Linked DNA regions of Homo sapiens: region 1 is linked to region 2. The links come from fine-mapping of genetic effects on gene expression. A gene starts in region 2. The other region holds a variant in brackets. All regions are shown on one strand. Distances are between the middles of the regions.

Region 1 (5,362 bases), 50 kb before region 2:
AGACGGGGAAAGGGAGTCTCCCTTTCCCCGGGGGAGTTTAGAGAAGACTCTACTCCTCCACCTCTTGCGGAGGGCCTGACATCAGTCAGGCCCGCCCGCAGTTATCCGGAGGCCTAACCGTCTCCCTGTGATGCTGTGCTTCAGTGGTCACGCTCCTAGTCCGCCTTCATGTTCCATCCTGTGCACCTGGCTCTGCCTTCTAGATAGCAGCAGCAAATTAGTGAAAGTACTGAAAGTCTCTGATAAGCAGAAATAATGGCGTAAGCGGTCTCTGTCTCTCCCTCTCTGTCTCTGCCTTGGCTGCCAGGCAGGGGAGGGCCCCCTGTCCAGTGGACACGTGACCCACGTGACCTTACCTATCACTGGAGATGACTCACACTCCTTACCCTGCCCCTTTTGCTTTGTATCCAATAAATAACAATGCAGCCAGACATTCGGAGCCACTACCGGTCTCTGCGCATTGGTGGTAGTGGTTCCCCGGGCCCAGCTGTCTTTTCTTTTATCTCTTTGTCTTGTGTCTTTATTTTTACACTCTCTCGTCACCACACACAGGGAGAAGCCCACCGACCCTGTGGGGCTGGTCCCTACAGGGGCATGTGGGAAGATCCCAGTGAAGCTGAGGACCACGAGCCCTGCAAGTCCATTGGGATCTGCCGGTGAACTCCGCAGGTCGTCTTTGAAGGCACATGTGGCTCTTCTGCCACTGCCTGGGGAGCTGAGACCCCTTTGCCCAAAGACCCTCAAGTGCCTTCCCTAGGGAGCTGCCCTGTAAGGTGCCGCCGTCCTGCCCGGGACTCACCACCACCTCTGTGTTCCTTCTAGACCTAGATCCAGACTGGAGTTCCAGCAGGCCCCAAAAGAGAAAGTGTGAGGTGTGGCCTACAAATATGTTTCCCTACGAAAACCTGCGGAAAATGTGTGGAAATCGATGTTGAGAGTGCGGGATCTGGGTGGGAGGAATATAAGCTTGCGTAAGTGGACAGGGACTCAGATACGAGATTCTGGATTTGATGCGTTGGAGGGAACGGCTGGGAGTGACCCACCCCCCACCCCCATTTTCTTCATCAGTCACCGAAACTTTCGCCCCACAGGTAGCTGACCCTAAATTCAGTGAAATCCAGAACTTTCCTGGCACACTGGAGAGGACGGCAGAACGCTGGGATGGATTTATCGTGCAAGACCAGCTTGATGTCCTTAGGGCTTGGAGGTCACCCCTTCACGAGGATTGTGAGGAGTGAATTCATCGGGGAGCCCCGCACCCTCACCTGCACCCTCACCCCCACCCCCACCCCCACCCCCACCCCCACCCGCACCCCCACCCCCACCCTCCCCCCCACCCGCACCCGCACCCCCACCCTCACCCGCACCCCCACCCTCACCCCCACCCTCACCCCCACCCTCACCCCCACCCCCACCCTCACCCGCACCCCCACTCGCACCCGCACCCCCACCCTCACCCGCACCCCCACCCTCACCCCCACCCTCACCCCCACCCTCACCCCCACCCCCACCCTCACCCGCACCCTCACTCGCACCGCACCCTCACTGGCACCCTCACCCACACCGCACCCACACCCACATCGGGGAAGAGCTCCATGATCATTCTTTTCTGTAGGCGAAAAACTGCGGCGGGAACTGCTGCCATGCAGCTGGGCTCCCAATGCAGTGGGGATGGTGGCGCTCTGGGCTGGCGGGAGCTATCCTGCCGGACGTGATTCCCAGCACAGCCGTGAGCGGCAGCAGAGGCGCAGTCATCTGACCCACATAGTTCCTGCGTTGCCTGATGGGCGCAGCTTCCCTAGAACTGAAAAAAAAGGACATCCTGCCAAAGGCGTCCCCGTTCTGTGCTGGCAGAAAGGCTGTAGGTCCGAGAGCAGGAGTCCTGCGCTCTGACTGGAAGCCCCAACACAGAGTCCGGGGCCCTCGGCCAAGTTCCAGACTCTGGACAGACCCAGGCCCCTGGAATGAAGGACAGACTGAGTCTCCGAGAGGAAGGGGCCCTGCTAAATGCCAAAAACATGCAGCTAATCTTCCCACCGCCCCTTCCCAAAGGAATCTTCCTCTGTTTATCAGGAGTCTGTGCAACGGGAATGGGAAATAATCAGGCCTTTTAGGAATTACTAGACCCTGGAGCTGAAAGGACATTCATTTCAGGAGGCCCAGATGCCAGGCAGAGCTGTGGTTTATGGAGGCGGACGACGGAGTTGGTTCAGGTTTTCCTCTGAGGAGGCCCAGTGAGCCTCCCGGCCTCCTGTGGAACAGACATACTCAGCCAATGGCAGGGTCCCCACATGGTCCCCTGAGCCCTGGAGTGAGGTCGGCTGGGAGCAGCAGAGCAGCCGGAGGAGGAGGAGCAAACCCCAGGCCACAGCGTGCTCCTGGAGGGACCCCGATTTTGTCAAAATTTAGATGCAGAGAGAAAAAGATTAAGGAAAATACCAAATTAACGACAGCAGTGACTGCTGGGTGTGACGTTTTGGGCAGGCTTGGTTCTTCTCCCTTTTGCTAGGTGTCCCACAGGAAGACGGACCCAGCATGTGGGGACCTGCACCCAGCCAGTCTCGCCCTGGCTCAGCCTGTTCACTGGCGCTGCCCTGCCACTGAGGGCTGAGGTCACTGTCCGTCTGGGCATGTCTCATGTGGTCTTT[C/T]CTTTTCTCCCCTTCTGGTTAGGCCCCCTGAGCTCAGCCACAGCCACGATCCCCACTGCCGCCTCCTCCCTGGGACTCGCTGATGCCTGGTGTGGGGAGGGTGCTGGCTGCTTTGGGTGTTACCCCCCGTTGGAGGCCCCCGTGCCGAGTTCTCGAGTGAGATGGCTCTTTCCATTTTCCCCCGACAGCTGCCTCGGCCTCTGTGCTAGAACAGGGAGCTACAGCTCAGTGACCCTGTGGTGCCTTGTGGGCCTGTGGGTGCCAGGGCTCCGGGGCCTGGGCCTTTTCCTGCTTGGTGTGGCTGACCGGGACGCGGCCGACCCCAGGGGCATACTGGAGCTAGGTCTTCCTCGCCATGTTTCCACAGTGAGCCCTTTGGCTGCACAGGTCACGGTCTGGAGCTGTTGGAGGAGGCTGCTCAGAGCTGTTGCTGCCCCACCAGACACTTGGCCAAGGGGCCTGCACCGGTCTGCGCGGGAACGTCCCACCGGCGTCTGCTCATGGCTGGGCTGTGGACCCATACGCTTGTTCGGAAGCCAAGCTCTGGCCCACAGGCGACCAGAGGAAGCTCGCAGGCCAGGCGCCAGCTCCCCGAGCCTGTCCCTGCAGCCGCGCTGTGTGCAGGCACGTGGGCCACCGCGTCTCCTCCACTGGCACTGCTGGGTCTGGGCCGCCAAGCCCACCTGCCCACCTGCATCCTCAGCAGCAGCACGCCCCGCAGTCGGCGGGTGCACACTCTGCTGCAGCCTGGATGGGCTGGGGCCTCGGGGCTCACTCCCCAACCATGAGACTCCTTCACCGCAGTTGAGGCTGTTGCAGTGGTCTCGGGCTCCCACTCAGCCCCAGGAGAGGGTCTGAAGGGGGTGAGTCCCTCCTCCCGACCTTCCTGCCCATCGTCTCCAGAGCTGGATGGTGCTGGGTCCCCACAGGGAGCGAGACAGCTGCCCCGTGACGGAAGGATGTGGGGACCCGCACCCGGCCGGTCTCACCCTGGGCTCAGCATGAGTTCAGGGAGGGGTCCAAAGGGCACTCCTGCCCACGCCCAGGCAAACCAGCAACAAGAAACTGGGTGGCCAGGGCGTCCGTGCACGACCCCAAACTTCTCCGCGTTAGAAAAAGGCTGATGAAGACCCGAGACAGAAACTTCCTGTAGCTGTTTATTCTACTGCGAGTAACAAAACCTAGGTCGTTCCATGTTCTCATGTACAGTGATATAAGCCTCCGCAATATAAAATACAATGTACAGGAATCTCTATCAAGTAAACTAAAGAAACACACTTGATTTTTACATTTGTGTATTTAAATTAGAAAAATTTGCTTTATATGTTAAACAAACAAAACCTTCTCATCGTACTAGATGTTGGAACGTGACACCTACTTTAATGTAATTTAACCTATGGACACTTGGCTTTCAACACCAAACATCTCAAACTGATACATTCTCAATGTTTTCTTAACTTAAAAAATCTGTGCTATAAAGTGAAAAATCTGTAGTGACGTACAATGGAATAACAGACTCCAAAGAACAAGTGAAGTTCTTTAATTTTACATCTGTAAAAGTTTATGAAAATATAAAAAATTATCAAAGTGTATTTGTACAAATAAATTAGCCAGATTTTTTTACTTCACACTTCAGAAGTACTCGAAAAATACACGACAAGCAAGAGACTGTTTCACAGTGAACAGCTTCCTGTCTCATTTGCAGTTCTTGAGCTAGTGATCACTAGTTCCCGTCTCAGACTTTACACAAGTCTTGTTCCACGTTCAAGGACAAACTTTTACATGTATCGTCTGACAAATACCAGTTTGGGGCCGAGCGTACTTTTCCCGGGATACAGAAGAACTGCTCAGAAGGCGAAACTGGACCAACAAAACTCCTGATTATTCAAATCAAGGACTCCTCCCTGCCCCCAAAGTACACTTAATTGGTTTGTTACTTTTTTTAGGCTGGTAAAACTTAACATTTTTCAATAAATTGTTATTTAAAATGCAACAATTATACTAGGACAGATGTTGCTTTAAATCATGTTTTGGAAAAAATTGATAAGGTGATATATAAAATCTGAGCACGCTAAGAAATGTGTTTCTGTTTCCCAGTTGAAAATTGTAATTCCAATTTTATGACAAAAGAAAGATGCATTTGTAAGGTTTGTGTTTCTCAAGACTCCAGATACAAGCTACTAAGACTTCTCCCGTAGCCGCAGGGTGGACGCCTGCAGGTCACGCCCACACCGGCCTCCGGGGCGGCGGCTAAGACCTGTAAAAGCAGCTTTTGGAAACACAAACGGATGAGATGTCAGTGAAGGTATGGCTCTAGGGTCCAACGAAACTCCCTTAAAATTTACAATAAAGTTATTGGAAAAGATAACTATGATCTGAAAAGCAATATGCTCCGTAGGCAATTTCCCATTTCTTTTAATTTTAAATGGAAATATTAAAGTTTAGTTTTTTTAAAAAAGCATCAGAATTGTAAAGATGTGAAATCTTGTAAGAAACCATTTACACAAAATTACAGTAATGTTTAAGTCCAGAATATTCTATCCTGAATCTAAGATCGTGGCTATTTCAAAAGCTATTTGTTCAACGCATCTTACGAACGTGGCTTTAAAAAGGGTCTCTGCCCGGCCGGGGCGTCTAGGCCTGCGAGGCGGTGCCAGCGTCGGAGGCCCTCGAGGCCTCGGGCTTCGGGTCCCGAGCGCTCTCTTTGCTCTTGC
Region 2 (5,362 bases):
AATGAGCAAACTGGACTTTGTTCTTTGACCTCCTCTTTCCCAATTAGTACATTTCCATTAACTGTTAATTATAGAACTTTTGTAATGCAATTAACACACATCATTTGATAGTAGTCATAAAAAGGCTGATCTTAGTATCCACTGTAAGGGACCCCGTCATTTAAATAAGAAATGTAAGTGAGAGACTCTGTTTAGAGAGAATTTTCTAGTGGTCTTCTGAGCCTGCCAGAGAGATGAGACCTCTCAGGCAAGGGCACAGTGCAGGGACCCACAGATAGTAGGGAGTCACCTGTTAAACACTTTCAATCTTAGCTCTTCAAGAGCCAAATAAGCCACTTGGTATTATGGGACAGGCATATAAAAAGGAAAAACGTGTCTTGTTTACAGAGATTCCAAACAATGAAGACGTGGCACAGCTTAAAAATAAACACTGAAGAGAAGCACCCTACTGGGCTCCACAGAACTGACCTTAAGGGAATTATGACCCTAAGGCTGTAGAAAAACTCACAGTATCAACAGCAGAACCTGCCAACTTCACCGCGAACAAAACGGGAGCCAATGCCCATTCCAATCATTTCCTCCTTACATGAAGAAACCCCAGCACCCTCCAAGGCCCAACCGATGATCCGCACGTCCTAGACAAGCCTTTGCGAGGCTCACATATGCACATGCAACATGGGCTGGGCTGTCTGGTAACCATGGGTACGGCTGGGCAGTCAATCACAAATTATCTTATTTGTGCCCTGTCTTCTCACCACAGCACAATGAGCTCTGCTTGACATAGTCTGAATTCAATCAACTACTAATAAGGGACAGCCTCTGGTGGAAAGCCTGAAAAAATTCAAGATACGCGCTTTTCCAAAACAAGAGGTATCTTATGAAACTTGCTGAAACAAGTCTACAAGAACAGACATCTCCTCCCCATGTACACAGCAAGTAGGAAAACAAGTGTGCATTAAGCAGGGAGTTTCACAACAGGGCTGTGTCTGTCTTCCTGGGTGACACTTCTGAGATGTCTATGCCGTATTTAAAATAGTGAAATAGTCACAGACACACATACACTAACAGCAACCCAAAGGGCCACTAAAGAGCCCTAGGCTCCAGGTAAACGAGTTGGCAACACCTGATTTAAAGGAAGGAGCTGGAATAATCTCTCAAGTTCCCCAGTGAACTTGTCTCCAGGACTGGGACAGGGGCCACCTTGGTCACTGCTGTATCCCTCGTGCTAACAGTAAGCAATGAATGCTCATTTAAAAAAAGACTGTATTTACTCCTTAAAAGGCACTGCTAAGGACCTTTCTCAGAACTGTATTTCAACCAAGTCATATGTGGCCCTACGGAAACCATGGAACACGGGGTATATAGCAAAGTTATGTGAATATACCGAAAAGACGTTCCCATCTGCCTTTCCCTCCTCTAAGTCCCTGAGTACACTAGGCTCAAATCTCATTCCATCAGCAGACAGATGACACGGATATCGAAGGCCCAGGCACAAGTTAAAGAGTATTTTCAATAACTGGTAACGCAGTAAGCTACTGCTACCTGTGGCCCAAACTCTAAACTTATATATTAAAGTCCTTTATTTAGAGCAGAAAAGCCGGCCTTGACCTCCACTGTCTCAGAACCGCGAGAAGGAGCCCCGGACGCCGCAGCGGAGGCAGCACGAGCACCCCTCCCGCCGAGCGCAAGAGCGGGCCCTTTCGGCTTCCGGGGTCACTGGAAGGCAAAATGTGTCACAAATACGGCCAGTACAAACCAACGCAACAAACTATTCCACAAAAAAACTGAAAACCAGCGCGGGGAGGTAAGGACACACTCTTCAGAAAAGCGAATCCGGGCTCTTCGCGCTTCCTGCAGCGCCAGCCGCCCCTGCAGTGCCGGAATCCCCCGAAGGCACGCCAGAAGCTAAGCCGGCCACCCCGACCGCACCCAAGGCCCGGGAGGAAGCGCCGAGGTCCCCGAGAATGCCTAGGGAAACCAGCTGCGCTTACAAGCCAGCTACGCAGCCCCCGAGCCCCGGGCCGCACTCGCCCAGGCCAGCCCTGCGCTCTTCCCCGCGAGCGGCCGCCCCGACTCCCACCCTCGGAACCGTTCCAGCCGCGACCACCGAGTGCTCGCCAGTCCCCTCGACCTCACGCAGCCCACCAGGGCCGGCGTCTGAGGCCCGCGCCCCAGGCCGCGGCGGCTCTGACCGGCCCCGCCCGCTCGCCCGCCCGCCCGCCCGCTCCTTCCCTTCCGCGGCCGCCATCTTCTCGGCGGGAGCGGCCTGTGCGGGATCCGCGGCTCTCGCCAGCCGGGCTCCGATGCCGGCCCCGCCCCGCTCCCGAGGGCGGCCCAAGCGGCGGCCGGCTCTTCTACCCGGCGCCCGGGACGCCACTTACCGCAGGCCGCAGGCCTCTAGGGTCTCGCAGCCATTTCCCCGAACGCCGCGGAGTGGGCGGACGGCCACCGAGATGGCGCGGGGCTAGAGCGGCGCCCCCGCGCGGCGGGCGGAGGACGAGACCGGCCACCGAGACGCTGCGGGGCTAGAGCGGAGCCCGGGCTGCGAAGCCCGGCCCCGGACTGCGCGCATGCGCCCGTCTTTCATACCTGCACTCCGGACGCGCCCTTCGGGTCTGCACTGACAATGACTTGCTTGCATCCTTTGTGGACACCTTATTTCCCCGACTCCAAGAGTGAAAGCTGGGGCAGTGCCCTTGCGGGGATCCCTCGGAACAGCCCGGGCAGGGCGCAGGCGGAACGTGGATGCTAGCCCCGAGGGACTGCACTCCGCCAGGATTTCGCTCTTAAGACCGATAAACCCTTCAAGTCGGTGGGGATAGAAAGCTCCTGGGCTAAATTTGTAAGAGGTGTAGGGGGGCGGGGACAGGGGATAAAAGAAGAAAAGGCCCAGGTTTTCTCTTCCAGATTGTGTTTCTCAAAACGCAGGCCCCTGACGGCCTCGGCTGGGAATGGCAGCGAGGGGCGAGGTCCAGGTGTGGGCGGGGTTTCTCTCCAACTTGAAGACCCTACCTGCTGCCTCCCCACCCCAAGCTCGGCTCCAGAAACCAGGAGCGTGGGGGTGGGGGGGAGAGAAAGGAGCACAGCGAGGAAGGGAGGCGGGCACGCTGGACCTCTAGGCCCCAGGGACCTTGGCGGTGTGGTCCCAAAGCTCTGCCTCCTCCCACCATGTCAATCCTACACTCAGAACTACTGACCAGTAGCTAGAACTCAAAGAACGCATGGACATGTTTGCCCACAGGGGTTGGAGGGAAAGATTAGACACTTACTATCAAGAGAGGGGAAAGTGAGGTATGGTAGATGTCAACCTTCCATGTGGATTTTCTTCAGTTCGCTCAATAGTAACTAGAGTGACACTCTATCACCTGTCTGTCCCCAGATACTGCAGGAAAGAGACTGGGAGGGGGCAGGAGGGGCAGCTGTTGCCTCGAGGCACCATGGGCACTGGCCACTTGCTCCGAGGGCAGGGACCTGGGGGGGGTGGAGGTGGCCCCATTACTTGTTTCTGCTTCTGTGAACAGTGATACGCTACCTGGAAGCATGGACCATCTAGCCTTTGGCGTTGGCCCTGGCCAAGAGTAAAAGGGGCCCAGAGTGCCGTAAAGCTGCCCCTAATACAGAGGCTTCTGCGATGCTTCCATGGATGAACCAGGGGCTTTGAGGCAGGTGTGCTTTTTAATAATACCGCTGAAGATTACAGGGTCTGCTAGTTTCTGAGGCAGACTTAGTTTTCTTCAAAGGAATACAACGCAGCTTGTTTTTGCTGGTGTGGCCCATTAGGACCACATTAATAGAATCTGGCAGGGATGGGCTTGACAGTCTTCCATCTTGAGTGTGATCTCAGGTTGCAAAGAGGGCTTTTTGCTCTCAGACATGGGGTAGTGGGAAGCTTAGAAGACAGACGGGGTTGAGACCACCTTTAACAAGCAGTGAGATCTTGGGCAAGCTCTCTGTTAAAGGAGGGCTCACATGCTGAGGCCCAGGTGAAGACCACATGAGGCCTCCCTACAAGAGGCTCTCTCTAAATCCAACTGGTATGGGGGAACCTCAGCCCAGTCTCTTTAGCTGAGGATCTTTAAACCAGCCACAATTTGTTTCTGCAAGACGGTGAGATTTTTAAGAGATTTTAACTCTTGGGTACAGTTTCACGCTGGGCACTCAGGAGAGATAGATGGAAAGGCACTAAGGGAATAGAAAGAGTGGACAAGGCGGCTCAGGGACAAGAGAACCAAGAGGAAGAAAAAGGCAGGAAAACATGAGGAAAGGGAACCCTCACTCAGCTCACCGCAGTGCTCAGCGATACGCAGAATGCCTTCCTTCCTGCAAGTCCAGAGGATACTGGAACCTGCCTCTCGTTCTCATCTCCCCCGCCCCCCAGCAGAAGCTGGCTCGGCTGTGGAGGCCTGGCCAGACTATCCACTCTGGCCTTCCCCACCTACAAGGTGACGAAGTCAGCTTTATCCCAGCTTACCTGCCGTCACTATTCCTGGGAGCTGCCCTCCCTGGTGAGAAAGGCATTTGGAGAATCTACAGTCTGGGTATTTGAATTTGAACTCCACTAGCAAAAGAATACTTTTTCCTAACCGAATTTATTTTAAAAGTAAAACCCAAAGGAGGAAACAAACTCTTCAGTTGTTTCAATAAATTGTTCCTTAAATATCCCCAATTCACAAACAAAACCCCACAAGTAGCACCGATTTACAACAGGATGTGGCCCAGAAAGCAGGAAGGGGGCCAAGAGCGCTCCAGCAGGAAGCTTAATAGGTGGTCCATGGAGAAAAACACGATGGGTGCATCACAAATAGGTGTAAACAGTACACTTTTGTAATGTGTAGACACCAGTTTCTGCAACCCCCATGCCACGCAAAGTTTCAGGGAAAGTCTTTGAAAGTACAATCCGGAAAACTCAGCAATTCTTAAAAAAAAATGGCTTTCCGCTGTTATAAGCCTCCTTCCTAAGACTCAGGGTCCGCAGCAGAATACCCTGACCCAAAATAAAAATACTATGACAAAAATACTCCAGGAGGCAGCCGGCTTTACTTCGTTTAAAGCCGGATTTCGCTTAGTCCCGTGAAAGCGAAGGAGCACCAGCGCTTCCTGATTCCGCACAGTTCTCTCGGCAGAGACGGCCCGTCCTCTCCAAGAACCGGAAGCCGGACAGCGTCAGGACGTTTTATTCTTCTCACCTGGGATTCAGAGAGGCAGCGGCCAAGGACAGGGCCCCCGCCGAGGCCACCGGGCAGCGTCCAGGTCTCGGCCTTTGGGAGGGGAGCAGCGGGGGAGGGGCACGGGGAGGGGCGAGGGCGGGGCGCGCCTGGGCCTCGGCGCTGGGCTCCTCCTCTGCCCGCTCCGGGGGACACCC

Which allele goes with the higher level. Alleles are on the strand shown, and positions count from the first base shown. SD is a standard deviation of normalised expression in the study named.
For the expression in hypothalamus of the gene that starts at base 2,455 in region 2, allele T in region 1 goes with a lower level than allele C (small effect, 0.33 SD a copy in GTEx).

The links. PIP is the estimated chance that this variant, and not a neighbour inherited with it, causes the effect.
Region 1: its variant is the best candidate, but not a certain one, in a credible set for the expression of DIDO1 in hypothalamus (GTEx, PIP 0.78).

What each region holds. Positions count from the first base shown.
Region 1 is chr20:62,873,951-62,879,312 of GRCh38, forward strand. It overlaps DIDO1 (death inducer-obliterator 1), which reads right to left. Exons shown (of 16, transcript NM_001193369.2): 16 at 3,793-5,362. The coding sequence ends at 5,283. LOC105372717 (a long non-coding RNA gene) reads left to right here. Exons shown (of 4, transcript XR_936989.4): 2 at 823-971; 3 at 1,092-1,227; 4 at 2,837-5,016. Among named protein-coding and RNA genes, the nearest start is that of SNORA117, 6.3 kb to the right of the region's middle. RefSeq lists enhancers at 1,384-2,038, 2,039-2,692 and a silencer at 5,347-5,362. The variant C/T (reference allele first, on the strand shown) is at 2,649.
Region 2 is chr20:62,924,051-62,929,412 of GRCh38, forward strand. DIDO1 (death inducer-obliterator 1) reads right to left here and starts at 2,455. Exons shown (of 16, transcript NM_001193369.2): 1 at 2,389-2,455. RefSeq lists enhancers at 1,331-1,944, 1,553-1,602, 1,945-2,558, 3,441-4,289, 5,066-5,155 and silencers at 2,043-2,132, 2,203-2,642, 5,286-5,335.